Linked DNA regions of Homo sapiens: region 2 is linked to region 1. Evidence: fine-mapped expression QTL. Tissue or cell type: monocytes. Region 1 holds a variant in brackets; the other region holds the start of a gene. All regions are shown on one strand. Distances are from middle to middle.

The links. PIP is the estimated chance that this variant, and not a neighbour inherited with it, causes the effect.
Region 2: it holds the start of RAVER2, and the variant in region 1 is fine-mapped to the expression of RAVER2 in monocytes (BLUEPRINT, PIP 0.94).

The regions. Positions count from the first base shown.
Region 1 is chr1:64,807,809-64,818,323 of GRCh38, reverse strand. RAVER2 (ribonucleoprotein, PTB binding 2) reads right to left here. Exons shown (of 12, transcript NM_001366165.2): 10 at 5,475-5,586; 11 at 3,484-3,620. Among named protein-coding and RNA genes, the nearest start is that of RAVER2, 68 kb to the right of the region's middle. The variant GTGTGTGTGTC/C (reference allele first, on the strand shown) is at 4,486.
Region 2 is chr1:64,740,645-64,751,159 of GRCh38, reverse strand. RAVER2 (ribonucleoprotein, PTB binding 2) reads right to left here and starts at 6,085. Exons shown (of 12, transcript NM_001366165.2): 1 at 5,739-6,085. The coding sequence starts at 5,987. RefSeq lists silencers at 6,112-6,311, 6,332-6,431.

The DNA of each region.
Region 1 (10,515 bases):
ACCTTGTGATCCGCCCATCTTTGCTTCCCAAAGTGCTGGGATTACAGGTGTGAGCCACCGCGCCCAGCCTAGTCCAGTTTTAATAATGGTTATCTGTAGGGAGATAGTATGATACAAGCAACAACATCAATAATGGAAATGCCAATTAGGTTTTTAAATCTGATAGTTTTATTGGAGATAAAGATTATTTTGTCCCTCTATGCCTTGACATATTCATCTCTCCTAATCCATAAGCAGAGCAGCCTACACAGTTTCTCTGAGATATTACTTCCATGCCTGAAGAAACTTCTCAATGGTATAAATAATGTGGCCTTTGAAATCAAGAAATCACTTACCAATTGTATGAACTTGGAGAGATTATTTATCCCTTCTCCATTTGTATAATGAAGGTGATCATTTAAATCTCACAAGGTTTTTTTTTTATTATACTTTAAGTTCTAGGGTACATGTGCACAACGTGCAGGTTTGTTACATAGGTATACATGTGCCATGTTGGTGTGCTGCACCCATTAGCTCGTCATTTACATTAGGTATATCTCCTAATGCTATCCCTGCCCCTCCCCCCACCCCACGACAGGCCCCAGTGTGTGACGTTCCCCTTCCTGTTTCCAAGTGTTCTCATTGTTCAATTCTCACCTCTGAGTCAGAACATGTGGTGTTTGGTTTTCTGTCCTTGTGATAGTTTGCTCAGAATGATGGTTTCCAGCTTCGTCCATGTCCCTATAAAGGACATGAGCTCATCCTTTTTTATGGCTGCATAGTATTCCATGGTGCATATGTGCTGCATTTTCTTAATCCAGTCCATCACTGATGGACGTTTGGGTTGGTTCCAAGTCTTTGCTATTGTGAATAGTGCCTCTATAAACATACGTGTGCATGTGTCTTCATAGCAGCATGATTTATAATTCTTTGGGTATATACCCAGTAATGGGATGGCTGGGTCAAATGATATTTCTAGTTCTAGATCCTTGAGGAATCGCCACACCAACTTCACAACGGTTGAACTAGTTTACAGTCCCACCAACACTGTAAAAGTGTTCCTATTTCACCACATCCTCTCCAGCACCTGTTGTTTCCTGACTTTTTAATGATTGCCATTCTAACTGGTGTGAGATGGTATCTCATTGTGGTTTTGATTTGCATTTCTCTGATGGCCAGTGATGATGAGCATTTTTTCATGTGTCTGTTGGCTGCAGAAATGTCTTCTTTTGAGAAGTGTCTGTTCATATCTTTTGCCCACTTTTTGATGGGGTTGTTTGTTTTCTGCTGGTAAATTTGTTTGAGTTCTTTGTAGATTCTGGGTATTAGCCCTTTGTCAGATGAGTAGATTGCAAAAATTTTCTCCCTTCTGTAGGTTGCCTGTTCACTCTGATGGTAGTTTCTTTTGCTGTGCAGAAGCTCTTTAGTTTAATTAGATCCCATTTGTCAATTTTGGCTTTTGTTGCCATTGGTTTTGGTGTTTTAGACATGAAGTCCTTGCCCATGCCTATGTGCTGAATGGTATTGCCTAGGTTTTCTTCTAAGGTTTTTATGGTTTTAGGTCTAACATCTAAGTCTTTAATCCATCTTGAATTGATTTTTGTATAAGGTGTAAGGAAGGGATCCAGTTTCAGCTTTCTACATATGGCTAGCCAGTTTACTAAATCTCACAGGGTTTTTAGAAATAGTAATCACTTATGTCACAAAGCATATAGCAAGTGTTAAAAAGAAAACAAACACTTTTGGTTCCTTTCCCTTAGACCTCTTCCTTCATCCCAGCAGTGGAAATAGTAAAAGGAATTCCTAATACACGACCACCTTTTTCTATAATGGTTATTTTAGTATTCCATTAGTTTAATTCCATGTACTTTAATGTTCCATTAGTAACATTTAATTAAGTTTATAAGGAAGAAAGAACACGAGAGAGAGAACAAATCCCATTTTATGAACAAGCGTGCGCTAGAAGCAGGGACTGTCAAAGGAGACACTGAACAGTGCAGGGAGGATTCATTTCCCCACCATATCTCTGGGCAAGCAAGTGTGGAGGCAGAAGACATACAGTAATGCAAAAGGCATCATTATCACAGAATTTCTCCATGTGTGAATGAGAAAGTCTTTCCATGGATATAAGTATACAATAAATCACAGTAATCTAATAAGCAAAACTGCTAAGAAAAAGGCAAATTTAAAAAGAAATAAAAGTTCAAAAAATTTTTAAAGCTTAAATATGTATTTAATGAATTTTTAAAAAATTTATTGTGCTTCTCCTGTTTATAAAAAGTTTGTTTCTTGAAAAGAAACAAATTGGAATTGTACAGGACTATATCTTGTAAATTTTACAATTAATGTCTTTATCTAAGTCATTACTTCAAATGTTATCTAATAAAGGACTGAAGATGACTCTTATGAATCAATATAAGAGAATGCCTTCAGACTGCAGCAATTTGTGATCACTGTTCTCTAAATATAGATATACTGTCACCTAATTACATCATCTACCCAACCCATATTTTTCCGTCTTGTCCCAGGTATATAAGAGATGGCAAATATTTCACTAATATCCAGCTGCACCATTTTTACAGAACTTGGGCTGTTTCTAGTACTCTTATAATCAGGCGTCAATTGTTCTAAGTGGTTTTCTTTTCTAAGTTTATTAGGGATGGGTCAGGCAAACACAAAGCTGCTCCAGGGAAATCAAAGTGGAGACAAGACTCCAACGAACAGGATAGATCTGAGAAGAAGCTGGCTGTTCTAGGAAAGTAAGAGTCAGAACTGATAATTATAAGACTCTTGTGGACTCTTATGATTCCATAATCACACAGGGCTAACATGATATATATTCAGCTTACACCACTAAGAGTAAGCTGAAGAAGGGCCAAAGCAAAACTGAAATATTTAAGTAATGACACAGGACATCTTATGAACATAATATTTTTATGTTATTGATTGGCTGGTTTAGAAGTTAGCACAGTAGTGTCTGTAAATATGATCATCTTTCTCCATCTACAATCAGTGGAGAAGAACAGAGGCATTCCCTTGGGTTTCTTAGGTCTACACTAGTGCAAACCAGAGGTTAGCAGCATTTTTCTATAAAGAACCAGATAGTAAATATTTAATCTTGCAGGCCACATAGTCTCTACTGTCATCACTCAACTCTTTTATTATAGCATGACAGCACCATAGACAATATGTTAATGAATGGACATGGCTGTATTACAATACAAATTTATTTACAAAACCAGGTGGTGGGCTAGATTTGTTCTATGGGCTGTAGTTTGCCAACCACTAGGTAAACAGTGAGAGGTAAATATCTAGTGCAAAATGATACTAAATAATGTCTTGAACACATTCCCAAATTTCAAATGATGAGTAAGAAATACATAGATCAGTGCAATTTGATTTGCCTACGTTAATAATATAGAAATCACAATTTCATATTCAGTGAACTCAATATATAGTTGAACCAATTTTTCTGAGTATCATCAGAACCTGGGAATTATTTACCTGTGCATAATCACCAAAAGGTGGAGAATAAGCAATGCACTTTTCCAATGCGTGTTGTGATTCACTTCCCTGAGAGATTGCATCCAGAATGCTGCTTGCAATTCCAGTCTTATGAAGAGTGGTTTTACTTGCAGGGGCTAAAGGCAGAATCAACAAGTTTATTTTATTTAGGTTATTTTATTATAAATTTATTTTATTTAGGTTATTTTAAATAAATTATTTTATTATAAGTTATATTATAAACAAATTATATTTTATTATAAATTGTAACTCAGCACATTATCAAATAGAACAAAATTTTAGTTTGCCAATATATAACTAAATAATTTTCCCCTGAGAAGTATATAATACTGTCTTATTCATTTGGAACAACTTAAAATGGACACCTGTCTCATGGGTAAATAATTTTGGTGGAAAGGTTCAAAAACATATATGTCTGGCTGAGCACGGTTGCTCATGCCTGTAATTCCAGCACTTTGAGAGGCCAAGGTGGGAGGATCACTTGAGCCCAGGAGTTCGAGATTGGCTTAGGTGACATGGTGAAACCCCATCTCTATAAAAATACTAAAAATATAAAAATTTGCCAGGAATGGTGGTGCATGACTGTAATCCCAGCTACTTGGGAGGCTGAGACATAAGAATTGCTTGAACCCAGGAAGTGGAGGTTGCAGTGAGCCGAGATGATGCCACTGCACTCCAGACTGGGTGACAGAGCAAGACTCTGTCTCACAAACACACACACACACAAAATTAGCTGGGCATGGTGGCACATGCCTGTAGTCCCACCTACTCGGGAGGCTGAGTTAGGAGGATCACTTGAGCCCAGGAGGTGTAGGCTGCAGTAGCCAAGATCACACCACAGCACTCCAGCCTGGGTGACAGAGGGAGACCTTGTCTCAAAAAAGCAAAACCCTAAAACTTAAAGTATAATAAAAAAATAAATAAATAAATAACCCAAAACAAAACGTGTGTGTGTGTGTGTGTGTGTGTGTGTGTGTGTGT[GTGTGTGTGTC/C]TAGTCTCTAAAACAAGGCATATAAAATGTAAACTAACCATTCTTATAAATGTAATAATTGTCACCATCAATTTTTAGACCAGATCAATATATAACAGGTATACTAGAAGTGCCTTTACATTTTTTTCCAGCTCAAAAAAAATTACAAATTAATGTTTGGATTCAAGGATATTTCATAAAATACAGAGGATGTATATTAAAAATGAAATTCATCTTTCATCTCTTTTCATTTAATCCTATTCTTCTTCCCAGAGGTAATAGTTTAGAATTTACTTTTTTGGATTTACTTCATGCATTTGCACTCTCAAGTATATACATGTAAGGATATATAACTTTAAATAAACATAAATGGAATCATTTTATGCATATATTTGCCAAAATATGCTTTAGAGTTCATCTCATATCAGTATATGTAGATATCCCTCAATTATTAAAAAAAAAGTTGCACAGTATTCAATTTTATGATGAACTATTTAAGCATTCCCCTATTGACAAATATTAAGTATTTTCCAGTTTTCCCACTATTTACAACCAATGTTGCAGTGAACATCCTTGTGCCTGGAGCACATCACATTTGTGATTTTCTCTTAAAACGATATTTGAATGAATAGTTGATTTATAGTAATTGAAGGCTTGAGGGTTTCCTCCAAAATGTAAATGAGAATTCCACTTCCACCAATTATTGGTAGCTCATACATTCTGGGAGTATTCAAATACTCAAGATATATAAGATTACTTATAGGTTTAAACTTCTGGTTAAGAAAAATGACTCTCTATGAGTTGTAATGTTTTCCTTAAATAAAATAGCACGCATTTTGAGTGTCTTAGTTTTAATTATTCTTTCAATTTAAAGAATAATTTAGGCCTTAATTTGGTCAATAGGTATTATTTGCTTCCATGAAGTCAAAAATTAAAGTAAAACTTATTATGAAAAGTATTCAGTAAAACTCCACAACAAGAATACTGAGCCCCTACTTACATGATAAGCACACACTGGGCAACACACTTGCCAAATTCAAGTATGGATTTTTACTGAGCCGAATTTCTTTTGGTGGTTCTCCCAAGAGTGAAGTTTGATTCTTAGAGGCAGCCTATTTAACAAAAACAAAGGAGGGAGTACTTAATGAGAGGTACACGAAAATAAAAATAAAGAATAGAGAAATACTTATTTTTCAATACATCTAGTGTACTTATGAAATATTTATGGATGTTCACTAAAATTATCACATTTCACCTGTTATTAGTTGTTCAATTAGGTTTTTAAAAAACTATTGTAGAGCCATAGAACTTTAGAACTAAAAGAGAATGAAAGGACATCTTATACAACCTTCTCATTTGAACCAGGAAAGAATTCATCTTCACAAGAAAAACCAAATTCCATATCTCTTTTCCAGAAACACTGTTATCTATCTGTCTGTCTGTCTGTCTATCTATCTATCTACCTATTTTTTTTTTTTTTTTTTTTTGGAGATGGAATCTCACTCTATTGCCCAGGCTGGAGTGCAATGGTGCAATCTCAGCTCACTGAAACCTCCGCCTCCCAGGTTCAAGCGATTCTCCTGCTTCCGCCTCCTGAGTAGCTGGGATTACAGGCCCGCACCTCCATGCCTGGCTAATTTTTTTATATTTTTAGTAGAGATGGGGCTTCACCATGTTGGCCAGGCTGATCTTGAACTCCTGACCTTCGTGATGCCCCCGCCTTGGCCAAAGTGTTGGCTCAACACCAAAGTGTTGAGATTACAGGCGTGACCCACCGCGCCTGGCCTGTTATCAATATTTTTACTGAGATTTTTATATTTTATGACCAAATAACAAAAGCAAAGCTTATTTACCTCTGGTACTAAAAATAATGTCAAACAAAATAAATGAGTTTAATAAACTCCAACTCCACATTTAGATGATGCTAGAAATACACATTTCTTGAAAATGTATATCAGTATATTTTTATGTATTAGTTAGGTGTAAGGATTCTAGCACAGTTGACCCTTGAAACAACATGGGGGTTAGGGGTGCCAACCCCCTACACAGTGGAAAATCTATGTATAACCCTTGTCTACCCAAAAACTTAACTACTAATAGCCTACTGTTAACTAGAAGCCTTACCAACAGCCAACAATTAACACATATGTTGTATGTTACATGTATTATATACTGTATTTTTACAATAAAGTGGAGAAAAGAAAATATTAAGAAAACCATAAGGAAAACACATTTACAGTACTGTAGTATTTATCAATACCATAAATTACATCATTTGTTTACAATATGGATCTGTCTGAAATGGTGGACAACAGCAGCTACAAACCTCAATCTGTGGTACACATCAAGCAATTCGAATTTTTCTTACAATGTCATGACATTGTTTCTTGAGAGCACTTCTAGTATCGCTAGTGGCATTTTTATGGATTGTAGGATGTTATTCAAGGTTTATGGTATTGCACTAAACATGATGAAAAATATGCAAGCATGACGAGACATCACTTTTTACTGCAATAAGCAATTTACTGGAGAGATGAATGGCTCACATGGAGATGATTAGCAACATACAGCATTTTAAGTGGATCCTCTCAACACTTGAGCTCACCGCAATAGCAACAGGAAGTAGCTACAAAATTATCACAGTAGTACGGTACACACTACAGTTAATTTTATGCAGTTATGATTTAATACTGCATCTTTATTTTGGTTTACGTTTCTTTTGACTGTGAATGGTGCCATGTACGGTCTGTAAGTATGTATGTTAGTTTTGCTAAATTTTAACTTTTTAATAATAGGTTTGTATACATGTTATGGTAGTAAATTACAAACTAGACTAATATCTACATATATTTTATGCATTCATGACATATATAACTTTTTCTTAATTTTTTCAATATTTCTAGGCTATGGGGTTCATTTGTGAGTTTTTTCAAACTTTTTCAAATTTCCAAAAAATTTCCCACTATATTTCTTGGAAAATATCCAAGTATAAGTGGACCTGTGCAGTTAAAACCCGTGTTGTTCTAGGGTCAACTGTATGTAGAAAACTCCTAAAAACTGAGCAATGACAACAAAAATGAACCTGATTTAAAATGGGCAGAAACTTTAATAGACATTTCTCCAAAGAAAATATACAGATGACCAGTAAGCACACACAAAAATGCTCAACATCACTAATCATTAGGGAAATGCAAATCAAAACCACAATGAGACACCACTTCACACCCATTGGGATGGCTATCACTACGAACTGAATGTTTAAGTCTCCCCAGAATTCATATGTTGAAATGCTAAGCCTCAATATGATGGTCTTAGAAGGTGGGGCCTTTGGGAGGTAATGAGGTCATTAAAGTAGAGCCCTCAAGAGTGGGATTAGTGCTCTTATAAGAAGAGACATGAAAGGTCTTGCTCCAGCCTTTTACCATGTGAAAATGGAATGGAAAGATGGTCATCTGTAAAGCAGGAACAGTATCCTCATCACACACTGGATTTGCTGGCACCTTGCACCTTCTCTTAGAATTCCCAGCCTCTCAAACTGTGAGAAATAAATGTTTGTTGTTTAAACCACCCAGTCTATGGTATTTTTGTTACAGACAGCTAAAACAGAAAACAAGCGTTGGCAAGGATGTTGGAAAATTAGAATCCCTGTGCACTGCTAGCAGGAATGTAAAATGGTGCAGCTGCTGTGGAAAAAAGGATGACAGTTCCAACAAAAATTAAACATGCATTATGGTATGATCCAGCAATTCCATTTCTGGGTACATACCCCAAAGAATTGAAAGCAGGGACTCAGATACCAATGTTCACAGCAGCATTATTTACAATAAACAAAAGGTAGAAACAACCCACATGTCCATGGATGGCTGAATTAAAACATGGTATATACGTACAATGGAATATTATTCGGCCTTAGAAAAGAAGGAAATTTGGATACATGCTACAACATGGATGAATCTAGAAAACATTATGCTAAGTGAACTAAGCTACACACAGAAGGACAAATATTGTGTCACCTAGGTACCTAGAATAGTCAAATTCATAAAGACAAAAGTAGAAACGGTGGTTACCTGGGCTAGTGGGAGAAGAAAATGGAGAGTTATTATTTAACAGGTACAGGTTTCAGTATGAGATGATGAAAAAGTTTTGGAGATGGAGAGTAATGATGCTGCACAACAATGTGAATGTACTTAATGCCACATCACTTAAAATGGTTAAAATGGTAAATTGTATGTTATGTATATTTTACCACAATAAACAGAAACTGGTTATCATCCCTGTCTCCCTGAATAAAATTCTCAAAGGTTGGAGTTGGGGTCCAAATCTCTTTTATTTATTTATTTATTTATTTATTTATTTATTTTTGCACTAGAGGTGATTCTGGAAACAAAAAGGTAGACTCAAGACTTACTGGCCAACACAATATTAAAGATGCAGGTCTAAACATCTGAAGCAAAGTTAAACCAATCATTTCAGCCAAGTCTAAAATCTCACAATTAGAAAACACTGAGGTTACCTGGTACAACCCCTACTGACAGAAAGAGGGATCATTTCTATTAATACAACATCCTTTACAGATGCTTGCCTGGGCTCTGCTTAATTGCTTTTGGTGATATGACATTCACATCTTTGTGAAATAAACTTTCTCTTTGCTTAAAAGCTTGAATTGTTCTTCCTTATATTAAACCTAAATCTGCTTTATTGTATGTTGTACTTAATAGCCAGTTCTGCCCACTGGAGGTACACACAATACTGTATGACTACTCTTTAAATAGCTTTAACAATGTATATGTTTGGTTGTCCCTTTCCAGGTTCCATATATCCATTTCTCCTGAATTCTTCTTCACAGGACTTATTTTCCAGAACCTGCCCCCATTTTGGCTGTCCTCTTGTAGATAGACTCATTTGCCCATTATGTGAATCACCTAAAATCCACAGTTCTTCTAAAGACTCTGAGGCTTTCAGTGAATTAAAGATTGCAAAGAGACATGAAGTATTCATATACAAGTTTTATTTGTGTAATTTCCCTCAATAACCCAAGCAATGAACACTGCAGATAAATTTTTAAAATTCATTCTATAAAGAATTGACGGCCAGGTGCAGTGGCTCACACCTGTAATACCAGCACATTGGGAAGCCGAGGCGGGAAGATCACCTGAGCTCAGGAGTTCGAGACCAGTCTGGCCAACATGGTGAAACCCCATCTCTACTAAAAATACAAAAATCAGCCAGGTATGGCGGTGTGTGCATGTAATCCCAGCTACTTGGAAGGCTGAGGCAGGGGAGCCACTTGAACCCAGGAGGCAGAGGTTGCAGTGAGCCGAGGTTGTGTCGCTGCATTCCAGCCTGGGCAACAGAGCAAGACTTGGTCTCAAAAAAAAAAAAAAAAAAAAAAAGGACTGCATTAGCTTTCTCAATATACAATTGCAGGGCATTCTAGTCATACCTCTTGCTATGGCTAGGTAACACTAAAACCTCTTACAAATTCAGTATTATTATTTTGACACTTGAATACAAGAAACTACATAGATTTTTTTTCCTTACAAACTGCTTAAGCCTAAGTTTTATACCACTTACAAACCACAGTGTATTTTAGGGTACAAATATAATAAAAATTAGATGTACTTTAGTCTACCTACTTATTACAACATTTATAAATATCAGTGGTATTTTAGCCAATAAAATGATTCGGTAAAATCTTCCAGAATTAAAAGAGAGACCAGATTAGTTTGAACAGACCAGAGTTTAATAGCTGGTTTTGATATTTTCCGGATAAAATTGGTTCTGCCTTTAAATATTAAAATACTTTAATTAGCTACCAAATATATATTTAAGATAGAAAAAAGTATATTTGAAAGAACAGCATTACTATGTACTTAGAAAGCCTTACAAATAACATTACTACGTAAGCGAATAAGCATTGATACTCCTAAGCTTTTTCAAACTACAAAATTCTGAACTTAAACTAGTTTATATCTTATATTTAAAATAGCAAGTATTTTTGAAAACCATGTATATCACAAACTTTTTGGAAATTCCTTATT
Region 2 (10,515 bases), 67 kb after region 1:
AAGCATAACCCAGTCATTAACTGGGAAATGGGCTATAGATTACATGAGATTTCTTTGGAATGGCTGTTAACACAGCATTTTGATGCTAACCACAAAGTATTCCTCCTCTTCTTGAATGTGTTTTCATAGCAGAGAACTGCATTTCTCAAACACTTTTCAAGAATTTCTTCCAAAACTAGAAACTTAAGGAGACAGTGGTGTCCCAGAAATCTAGAAGTACATTTCCCTAGCAGCTTTCAGTGTTCTTGTTACATTGAGAATAGGATAACAAAACACATGAAAAAGAAGTAGAACCCATAATTCAATTCTGTTTAATTGCATTAGAAAAGAAAATTTAATAGATAATTTTTGCACAGCATACACTAAGAAAAGTAACTTTTGGAGGTAAGCAATGGCATTTTGATTTTAAAGAAAGGATAATTTCAAAAAGAGAAAACACCCCAATATTGTCAGGAAAAAAGTAGAGAATAATAGCCCTATTTTAAAAAGAGGCAATAATTACCAAATATATTGTTAGAGAAAACAAAGTACATTTTTAAATCCCACAGTTAAAGGACATAAAATATGTAAGATAATTCTTTTTTATACTGATGTATAAACAGGAATACGTAGCTTTTATAAATAAGATTATGACCAGCCTGGGCAACATAGAGAGACCGTGTCTCTACAAAAAATTAAAAAATATTAGCTGGACACAGTGGTGCATGCCTATGGTCCCAACTTCTCAGATGGCTGAGATGGAAAGATCACTTGAGCCCAGGAGTTAAGGCTGCAGTAAGCTATGATCACACCACTGCACTCCAGCCTGGGAGACAGAGAAATCTTGCTCTGTCTCTTTAAAAAAAAAAAAAAGAAAAGAAAAAGAAAAGAGAAAGAGCAGAAAAAAATTTAATTACGAAAAAAGATTAACTAGAGTTTCTTACATTTGGTTGTTTGTGATTCTAAAAAGTGCTTACTTGGTAATATTATGGTTTCAAATGGGTCTCTGTAAATAAACCATCAAGCTTCTCAAATTAACTATCATATTAGAGTACTTTGAAATGTAAGTTTATAATATCCAAAGTGACAATAGAATGTTTTGTTTCCTCTATTACTGATCCTGAATGTTGGCCCTAAGCACTTCACATTGTCTTCTAATTTCACAAGAGACTCTCTTCAAGATTTTAGGGTAAACAAGATGACAAAAACAAAACACATGCACACACATAAGACCTGTAAGAAAAAAAACCTAAGTGAACACAAATAATCTAAGAAGCAAATGCCCCTGTTTTCTCCATTTTGAAACCCCAATGACAACAATATTGAAACAGAACCAGGTTAACCGTAATACAATTTATAGAAATACAATAACACATATATTAGAAAAAATATTAAAACATTACCTCAACCAATCAAAATTCTAAATTCAGTTGCAAAAGACCAGACACACACATATACAATGGCTATGAATAGGAACCAGCATTTGCAACATTACTATTGACTATAAATTATTCATTAAAAATAATTATAAATATTATTCACTATAAAGTACTCACTATAAATACATTCCAAAACAAAGATATAACTATAAATATTCAATTCACAGTGGCATGAGGTACTTGGGGATCTAGGTAGTTTGATAAATGTGGAATAGAATCCAATGCAGGACTGGCCGGGCACGGTGGCTCACGCCTGTAATCCCAGCACTTTGGGAGGCCGAGGCGGGCAGATCACCTGAGGTCAGGCATTCGAGAGCAGCCTGGCCAACATGGTGAAACCCTGTCTCTACTAAAAACACAAAAATTAGCCGAGCGTGGTGGCACATGCCTGTAATCCCAGCTACTCGGGAGGCTGAGGCAGAAGAATCGCTTGAACCCAGGAGGTGGAGGTTGCAGTGAGCCGAGGTCACACCACTGCACTGCAGCCTGGGCGACAGAGTGAGAATCCGTCTCAAAAAACAAACAAACAAACAAAAAATCCAATGCAAGACTAATCAGAAATGAACAGAATCCAATGCGGGACTAATCAGAAATGAGACTGATGGCTGGGTGCAGTGGCTCACACTGTGGTCCCAGCACTTTGGGAGGCAAATGCAGGAGGATTGCTTGAGTCCAGGAGGTCAAGACCAGCCTAGGCAACATAGAGATACGATGTCTCTACAAAAAATTAAAAAAAAAAAAATTAGCCTGGCATGGTGGCTTATGCCTGTAGTCCCAGCTACTTTAGAGGGTGAGAGAATCGCTTCAGCCTGGAAGGTCAAGGCTGCAGTGAGCAGTGATCGTTCCACCGCACTCCAGTCCAGGTGACAGAGCAAGTCCCTGTCTCAAAACAATAAATAAAAACTAAAAAGGAATGAGACTGGAAACGTAGGCAGGGGCCAACACACAAAAAGCCTAAGAATCTTAGACTGCTGTCCTATCATTTCATGCTTTTCAAACTCATATCTGTGTACTCCATGGTAATACAGAAATACAGAGAATCAAAAGTCAAATATAGTACATTTTCCATAAGTGTCAAGTTTATGAAAAAAAATTGGGAGTTAAATGCTATTTTTGTGTTAAATCCAATGTTACTAATAGAATATAAAATTAATATAAAATTCTCAGACAGAACACAAAACTTCAAAGCAATTTCAGTCTTGCAACAGTCTAATTCAGATTCACTGTTCTTTACTGTTAAGGACAATTTGAGGAAAAGTTTGAGAGGACGTGCAGCCAAAGGCTGGTTTTTTATGAGCAGGAGAGTGACATGATCAGATTTGTGCTTCAGGAGTATCCCTCAAGGGAAGTAGCATGCAGAAGGAGCTAAAATGTAAGAAACAGGACAGTAATGAAGGTAGGTGACAAACCGAAAAGTTGTTAACAGTGAACAAGAGACGAAAAGGACTTGAACCAGAGCTGAGGCTGTGAAAACAAAGAGGGCCAGGAAGATTCCAGAAAGCTTAGGCAGACCAGACAGGGCTTGACTGAATGCACAGTAATTATTCAGTGAGAAAGCTTTTGAGAACTTAATATAAAGGTGTTCACTTTTTTTTAGAGCCGGTACTTCTATAAGGTATTTGATAAACATACCTCTAAAAGCTTCCAGTTAAAAATACTTTCAGTATGCCTTTTAATTATAGGAACTATAAAGTTGTGGGATGCTATTATAAATCTGCTATACCAAAAATAAAACAAAATTTGAGATTTATGAAAACTACATTTAATAAAGAAAACACTCATATATTTCAAATGTTAAGAAAAAATTATTGGGTTTCTACTAGTAAGTTATTGATCAGTATTTTCTAGAGACATAAATACACAGTTTGAGAACTAGAGTTATGAATGTCTTTGATCCTTAAAGTGATATTCTAAAATAAAGAAATGAGGCCAGGCACAGTGGCTCACACCTGTAATCTCAGCACTTTGGGAGGCCGAGGCGTGTGGGATCACCTGAGGTCAGGAGTTCAAGACCGGCCTGGTCAACATGGCAAAACCACATCTCTACTAAAAAATACAAAAATTAGCCAGGCATGGTGGCAGGCTTATGTAATCCCAGCTACTTGGGAGGCTGAGGCAGGGAGAATCACTTGGACCTGGGAGGCAGAGGTTGCAGTGAGCTGAGGTCGCGCCACTGCACTCCAGCCTGGATGACAGAGCGAGACTCTGTCTCAGAAAAAAAAAAAAAGAAAGAAAGAAATGAATGAATAAACACAGTCTCTTCTGGAAAAGAACAAGAACTTAGTATTTCAAAAATATCTGATTACTTAATAATTGAACAAAAGCCATATTAACCATTTCATAAGGGTAAATATGTAGTTTTAGCACAGGTGATTTTATGTAGGCCTTACTAGCAAAAAGACACAAAATAAAATAAAGTGAAACTTTCATCAGTAAGTTGACAGTAAAATATAGTCACTAAGAAAAAGCAGACATTATAATTAAGGGAAATTGTTAAAACAAAAAATACAAAAAAATTCATGCAGAACATATGAAAATATTAGTTTAAGTAGATGAAATCTCAAAAATACAAATCCCAGTGTAATTCTGAGAAAGCTTCTATCACTAATTAAAACTGCTCCTTTTATTAGACCCTTTGATATATTTTTCATGTCTATTGCGAAGGGAAATGAGAAAGATACCAACAGCAAAGCAAGAATAGACAGAACGTCTTCAATTTGGGGTCTAAATATATTTAGAATTAATGCAAGGAATTGTGATAACAAAAACAGCTGACATTCTACAAAGACATTGAGATACTTCTCTATTTCTCTCCTCCTAGACTGTCTATACAAAGAGCTGCTATTTTTTAAATTTGTTTTTTTAAAAAATGCCATCTGCTTCTTCCAAGCCTCCTCCTTCCTGAGCTCCCTTACAGTCCTCTATTTGTATGGGCAGGGGAGGCTGCTTCCAAGAAATCAGTCCATTGCAGGTGTCCTTAACAGGTAGTATCACAAAACATTACCTGACAGATGGGAAGTGGACCATGGCGGAATGGAAAGAGTTGAAAGACAGATGAGATAAACAATACTGACAGACACTGCATTTTGAAACAAAATAGCCCCCCATGCCTACGGGTTATAAGGTTATATGTTCATATTTATTGTGAATGGCTATGTAAGGTCTCATTACATAGTAATGGGGCATTGGTCTCATTATTTTATAAGTCACATGGAAGAACTGCCATGCAATTGTCAATAGCCAGCCCTCTTGCAATTTCATGCATCCGGTTACAGGAGGAACTACAAATCCGCAACTACCAGGACAGCCCACCACACTCGGAGCAGTATATAAATTCAGGTTATATGTGAAACATGTGTGAACATCCAGACAGCTAAGAAATCCTGAAGAATCAAAGAAATGATTTCAAGCTTTTGATAAAACAAAAATATATATGCATAGGAAAAGAGAAAAGAACAACATCCCAGGATAACAATGGTTATCTTCAGGTATCAGAAATATGGGTAATTTCTGTGTCCCCTTTGTGCTTCTCTGTCTTTCCTAGCTCTCCTACAATGAGCATGCAGCTTTTGAAATCAGGGGAAAAAAAAAGTTAAATAGATGCAGAGTTTCTAATCTTAAAAGCAACAGTTAATCTGGATTAAATACACAGAGTAGCTATCTTTAAACCTCATCCAAGTCACTGAGAACAAACCCTCCAGTACTGTACTTGGCGTAGCAGGAGGCGGCTGCAAGGCTCCAAGGAGCGCAGCAATAACTCTATTCTGGGGCCTTAGCAAACTGAGAAGACAGAGTTGTTTCATAGAAACTTGGGCAAGTGCTTCTGCAACAACAGCGAAACTCACTCCCAGCTCTCTCGTGCCCCTGCCCCCTATGGCACTCCCGAGCACCGGGGACTATACGTTGGAGCCCTCGCCCCTGCCAAGGTGCTCCCGAAGCTTCGGCCCCCTCTACCCCCGCTCCCCCCCGCAAAATGTGTGCTCCACAACTCACCTCCACTCTCCTTCACCTCCTACTCCTCTACGGCCGTAGGGGAAGGAAAGACCGGGCCGAACTTGGAGGCAGCAGCCCCTGATTCCCGTGACCTTGGAGAAGCCGCTTCGCCACTCAGAGCCTCAGTTTCCCAATCTGCCCCCCTCCCTGGCAGGGCGTCTGCAGGCTAGAAACCCCAAGAACTCAGTCAAACCGAGGGGCCGCTCTCACCACTCGGCGCCGACCCACTCCCCAGGACCGCTCTGAGGCGCCCCCGATCCCAGCCTGGACACGGAGCGCCGCCCCGCCGCCCCTCGGGACGCGTCGCCCCTATCACCGTCCCAGTACCTGGCAGTTGCTGTCCTGGGGCAGGTTTTTCACCAGGATTTTCCTGCGGTTGCTCAGCTCCCGCTGCATCCGCTGCAGTCGCGCGGCGACCTCCTCAGGGTGCAGCGCGGCGGGCATCGGGTCCGGGGCGCCCTCGTGCGCTTCGGCTGAGGGGCCCTGCCCGCGCAGCCCCGGCCCCGGCCCCAGCCCCGCCGCGCTGCCCAGGCCCGCGCCCCCCTCGCCGCCGCCGTCTCCCGCCGCCGCCGCCATCTTCCCGGGCGCCCAGCGGCTGCGGACTCCTCGGAGGCTCCAGGGGAAGCGGAGAGAGAAAGCGGGAGGAGGCCCGGGCGAGGGCGAGGCGGGCAGAGGCCGCAGAGTGGGCCCAACCGCGGGGAAGGGGGGCGGTGGGAGGAGGGAGTAGAGAGAGGCGGCGCCGCAGCCAGCAGCCTGCTGGCGGGGAGAGGAAACCTGAGGCGCCGAGGAGGAGCCCGAGAACCACCTCGCGGGAACCTCCCCCGCCGGCCCCCGGCCCCGGCGCACAGGCGCGCCCGCGCCCGCCTCTCGCGGGTCCGCAGGCGGGGCCGGGCGCCGCCACCCGGACACCTGTGAGGGCGCGGACGCGCAGGCGGGCTCCCCCTCTCTGCGAGGCCTTCGCGAACGCCCAGGGTCGTTCTCTGGGGGATGCGGCCCCTTCGCGGTGGCTTCGCCGGGAGACTCAGCCCCAGGCGCCTGTCCCCGGCTGGCCCCCCATGTGACGCCGCAGCTCTCCCCCGGCTCCCCTCGAAACTCCCGCGCTGGGGCGGCCCGGGGGCTGCGGGCGCGAACTCGGTCTTCCCACACCCGAGATGGGGCTGGAGGGGTGGCAGGAGGGCGCCTCCTGCAGCCCGGCTGGCTCCCGATGGTAACCCTTCTGTTGGTTCAAGAAGAGCATATTTGGCAAAGTTTGAGTTTACAATGAGATTTTCTGGGGAGTAAAAAGAGGGACATTGTGGGAGAAATGTTATGTATTTGGTAAAACCTGATCGTAATGTATTTTGCTAGCTGTGTATGAGAAAGCCTGTGCCCTTCACCTGTCCCTCTGTCCCTGTCATGCAGTTCCTAAAATGTAAAACCTGGGTAGTTGGGTCTGCAACATGGAAAGTGATGCTGAAACAAAGACTAGAATGGAAAAGGAGCTGTGGCAGAGGGGCTGGAGAATACGCTGCTTGGAACATTATTTTAATTGAAACTTGGAGGGAGAGTTACAGTGTAGAACTATACTTAGTCAAACGGATGTCATCAGATCAAACAATCCAGCAGCCTTTGGCACTAGCCCAGGTGACCATCAGCGAAGGGGACCATGCATCTTAATTGTGTAGCATGCAAGTACACTAGCAAAAAAAAAAAAAAAAAAAAAAAAAAGACTTTAACACTAATTAAAAGAAAAACAAAATGTTTTAAAGATTTTTTAAAAATACTACAAATTCAGTCCTTACCATGTGCTCCCCCCAACCACGCATTTCTAAATGCTTTACATATACATATTTATTTACTCTTCATGATCATTCAATTACGTAGGTTTTGTTTTCCTCACTTTACACGTGAGGAAATGGGATCTGTTCTGATTGATTCCAAAGCCCAGTGTTCTGAATAACATAAAATAATTCACCCGTAATCCGTCCACCCAAAAATAATGGCTGCTAATACTTGTATCATTAAAATGATATTCGGCAATACACCCTTCTATACCACCACTATTCCTGGTAACCAAAGGATAGAAACAACCCAAATGTCCATTTATTGATGAACAGATAGGCAAAGCGTGGGATATATATATGCTAAGAAATATTTTTAGCCATAAAAAGGAATTAAGGACCCCTACAAGGTGGACGAACCTCCAAAGCATTAAATGAAAGAAGCCAGAGACAAAAGGTCATATATTGTATGATTCCATGCGTATAAAATATCAGAATAGGTAGATTCATAGAGCGGAACACAGATTGGTGTTTACCAAGGGCTGGAGGAGAAGGTAATGGGTGCAAACATCCTTATGGAATGATGAAAATCTAGTTTTGGAACTAGACAGAGGGGGCAGTAGCCCAATAATATGAATGTACTAAATAGTCACTGAACTATTCACTTTTAAAATATTAATTTTATTACGTGACTATTACTGCATAAAAATGTTTTTGAATGATATTCTGTAGTTTACAGCTCTGTTTTCTGCTTTTTACAGTATGTCTGCTGAATCCCTTTCTATGCCAATGTATTTGAATACCATGGTTTTTATGGCTGCATATTATTCTGTTGAATTAGAAAATTCACTTATTTCCTAGCATTAGTATTTCCTATTATTTTTATCTATTGTAAACAGCACTGAGTTTAACCCTCTATACATATTTGAAGATCATTACTTTTCCACAGAGTGAAGAACTAGAAGCAAAATTTCTGCATCTAGAGTAAGCATATTTAAGGATTTTTTGTATGTATTTACAAACTTACCTCAGTTTTCCCTATCACAAGCATTGTATAAGAGCACTTATTTCTCTGCTTGCATCCATGATATTCTAGTATTAATGTATCATTTTGCTTTTAAATTGTATTCCTTTGATTTTAAAAGGTATACATTTTAAACTCCAATAAGGCCCTATTTTGTAGAGCTGAGAGACTTTGAAAAGTACATTCTTTGAAGTGAAGAAGCATGAATAGCCTTAGCATAGGCTGTAACCTTGAGTCATTCATTATGTTTCAGAACATGTATTTATCCAAATGAGTACCACCTCCTTGGCAAACATTTATTAAATGTCCCTTATGTGCTAGATAATATATAAAGGCAATAAGAAGACAGAAATAGTAAAATAATGCTCCTGTACAATAGGGGCTAAGTCTCACTGAGAGAAAATTATGCAATGATTATAATTAAATATAATAAATATGCAAACGGATAGTGGTCTGAATATAACTTCAGTGATTGCTTTTGCTCAAAACATTCTCCAAAGTGCTTTTTTTTTTTCTTTTGTGACGGAGTCTTGCTCTGTTGCCCAGGCTGGAGTGCAGTGGCGTGATCTTGGCTCACTGCAACCTCCGCCTCCCAGGTTCAAGCGATTCTCCTGCCTTACCCTCCAGAGTAGCTGGGACTACAGGCGTGTGCCACCAAGCCCAGCTAATTTTTTGTATTTTTAGTAGAGACGGGGTTTCACCATGTTAGCCAGGATGGTCTTGATTTCCTGACCTCATGATCCGCTCGCCTCGGCCTCCCAAAGTGCTGGGATTACAGGCGTGAGCCACCACGCCCAGCCCCAAAGTGCTTTTTTGGAATTGACTTTATAATCTACAGCAAATTATTCTGCATAGTTTATGTGGTAGCAAATACTCACCTCTTAGAGATGGGTTTAATTTTTGGAAATAATTAAATGTTATTTGAGGTTAAGTCTGGTGAATGAATCAGGTGTTGATTATGTTTTGGGAGTTATGATAATGTAATTCCAGTTTTGGCCCCAATGGGGACATGATTACAATGTTATCAAATTATTAAGCCAATTTTATTAAGTGGCTACTTTGAATTGATCCCACTCCTTGTGCAATATTGCTACGTCGTATAGGGTAGTGGCTTTCAAACTTTTTTGACCCAATCTAGTGGGAAATATATGCCACAGTGGGAAATATATTTTATATCACAATTTAGTAAACACACACACAATCGAAATGAAGATTTCACAAAACATCACGCTCCTTCATCATGTAGCACATTCTAGTATTTCCTATTCTATTCCATTCCATTTTAAAATTGCTTGAATTACACAGTCGATTTTGCATATCACTAATGAGTCCTTACTCACATTTCGAAAAACACTGCCCTAGATTTCAAATCAAGTATGTTTTACATTTGCTCAACTGTTTTCAAGGAATTAAGGGAAATGGCAGAATCTACTGGTTAAAAATAATTTTAAACTGAATTAATTGTTATTGCCACATAAAAGAACTGGATGGAAACTGCAAAGACTTTGGAATGCTACTGTAATTCCAAAGAGTTCCTCTCATGCCAGGTTTAGCCTGACTCTTTAAATAGCTGCTTCCATGGCATACTAAAGGAACACTCTAATCTGAACTTGAAGTGAAGTACAATTATCAAGCAGCAATGTATTTACCAATACCCACAGGTAATTATCATGATCTATATAATGACCATGTTATTAAAATATGAGCCCTATGCTAGCTTTAGCCTTTATTTTTTTAAATATTGGTGGTAATTTTTTAAAGTTTATTTATTTATTTATTTTTTTATTATTCTTTAAGTTTTAGGGTACATGTGCACAACATGCAGGTTGGTTACATAAGTATACATGTGCCATGTTGGTGTGCTGCACCCATTAACTCATCATTTACATTAGGTATATCTCTTAATGTTATCCCTCCCTCTCCCCCCACTCCACAACAGGCCCCAGTATGTAATGTTCCCCACCCTGTGTCTATGTGTTCTCATTGTTCAATTCCCACCTATGAGTGAGAACATGTGGTGTTTGGTTTTTTGTCCTTGCAATAGTTTGCTGAGAATGATGGTTTCTAGCTTCCTCCATGTCCCTACAAAGGACATGAACTCATCATTTTTTATGGCTGCATAGTATTCCATGGTGTATATGTGCCACATTTTCTTAATGCAGTCTATCATTGTTGGACATTTGGGTTGGTTCCAAGTCTTTGCTATTGTGAATAGTGCCGCAATAACATACATGTGCATGATTTATAATCCTTTGGGTATATACCCAGTAATGGGATAGCTGGGTCAAATGGTATTTCTAGTTCTAGATCCCTGAGGAAT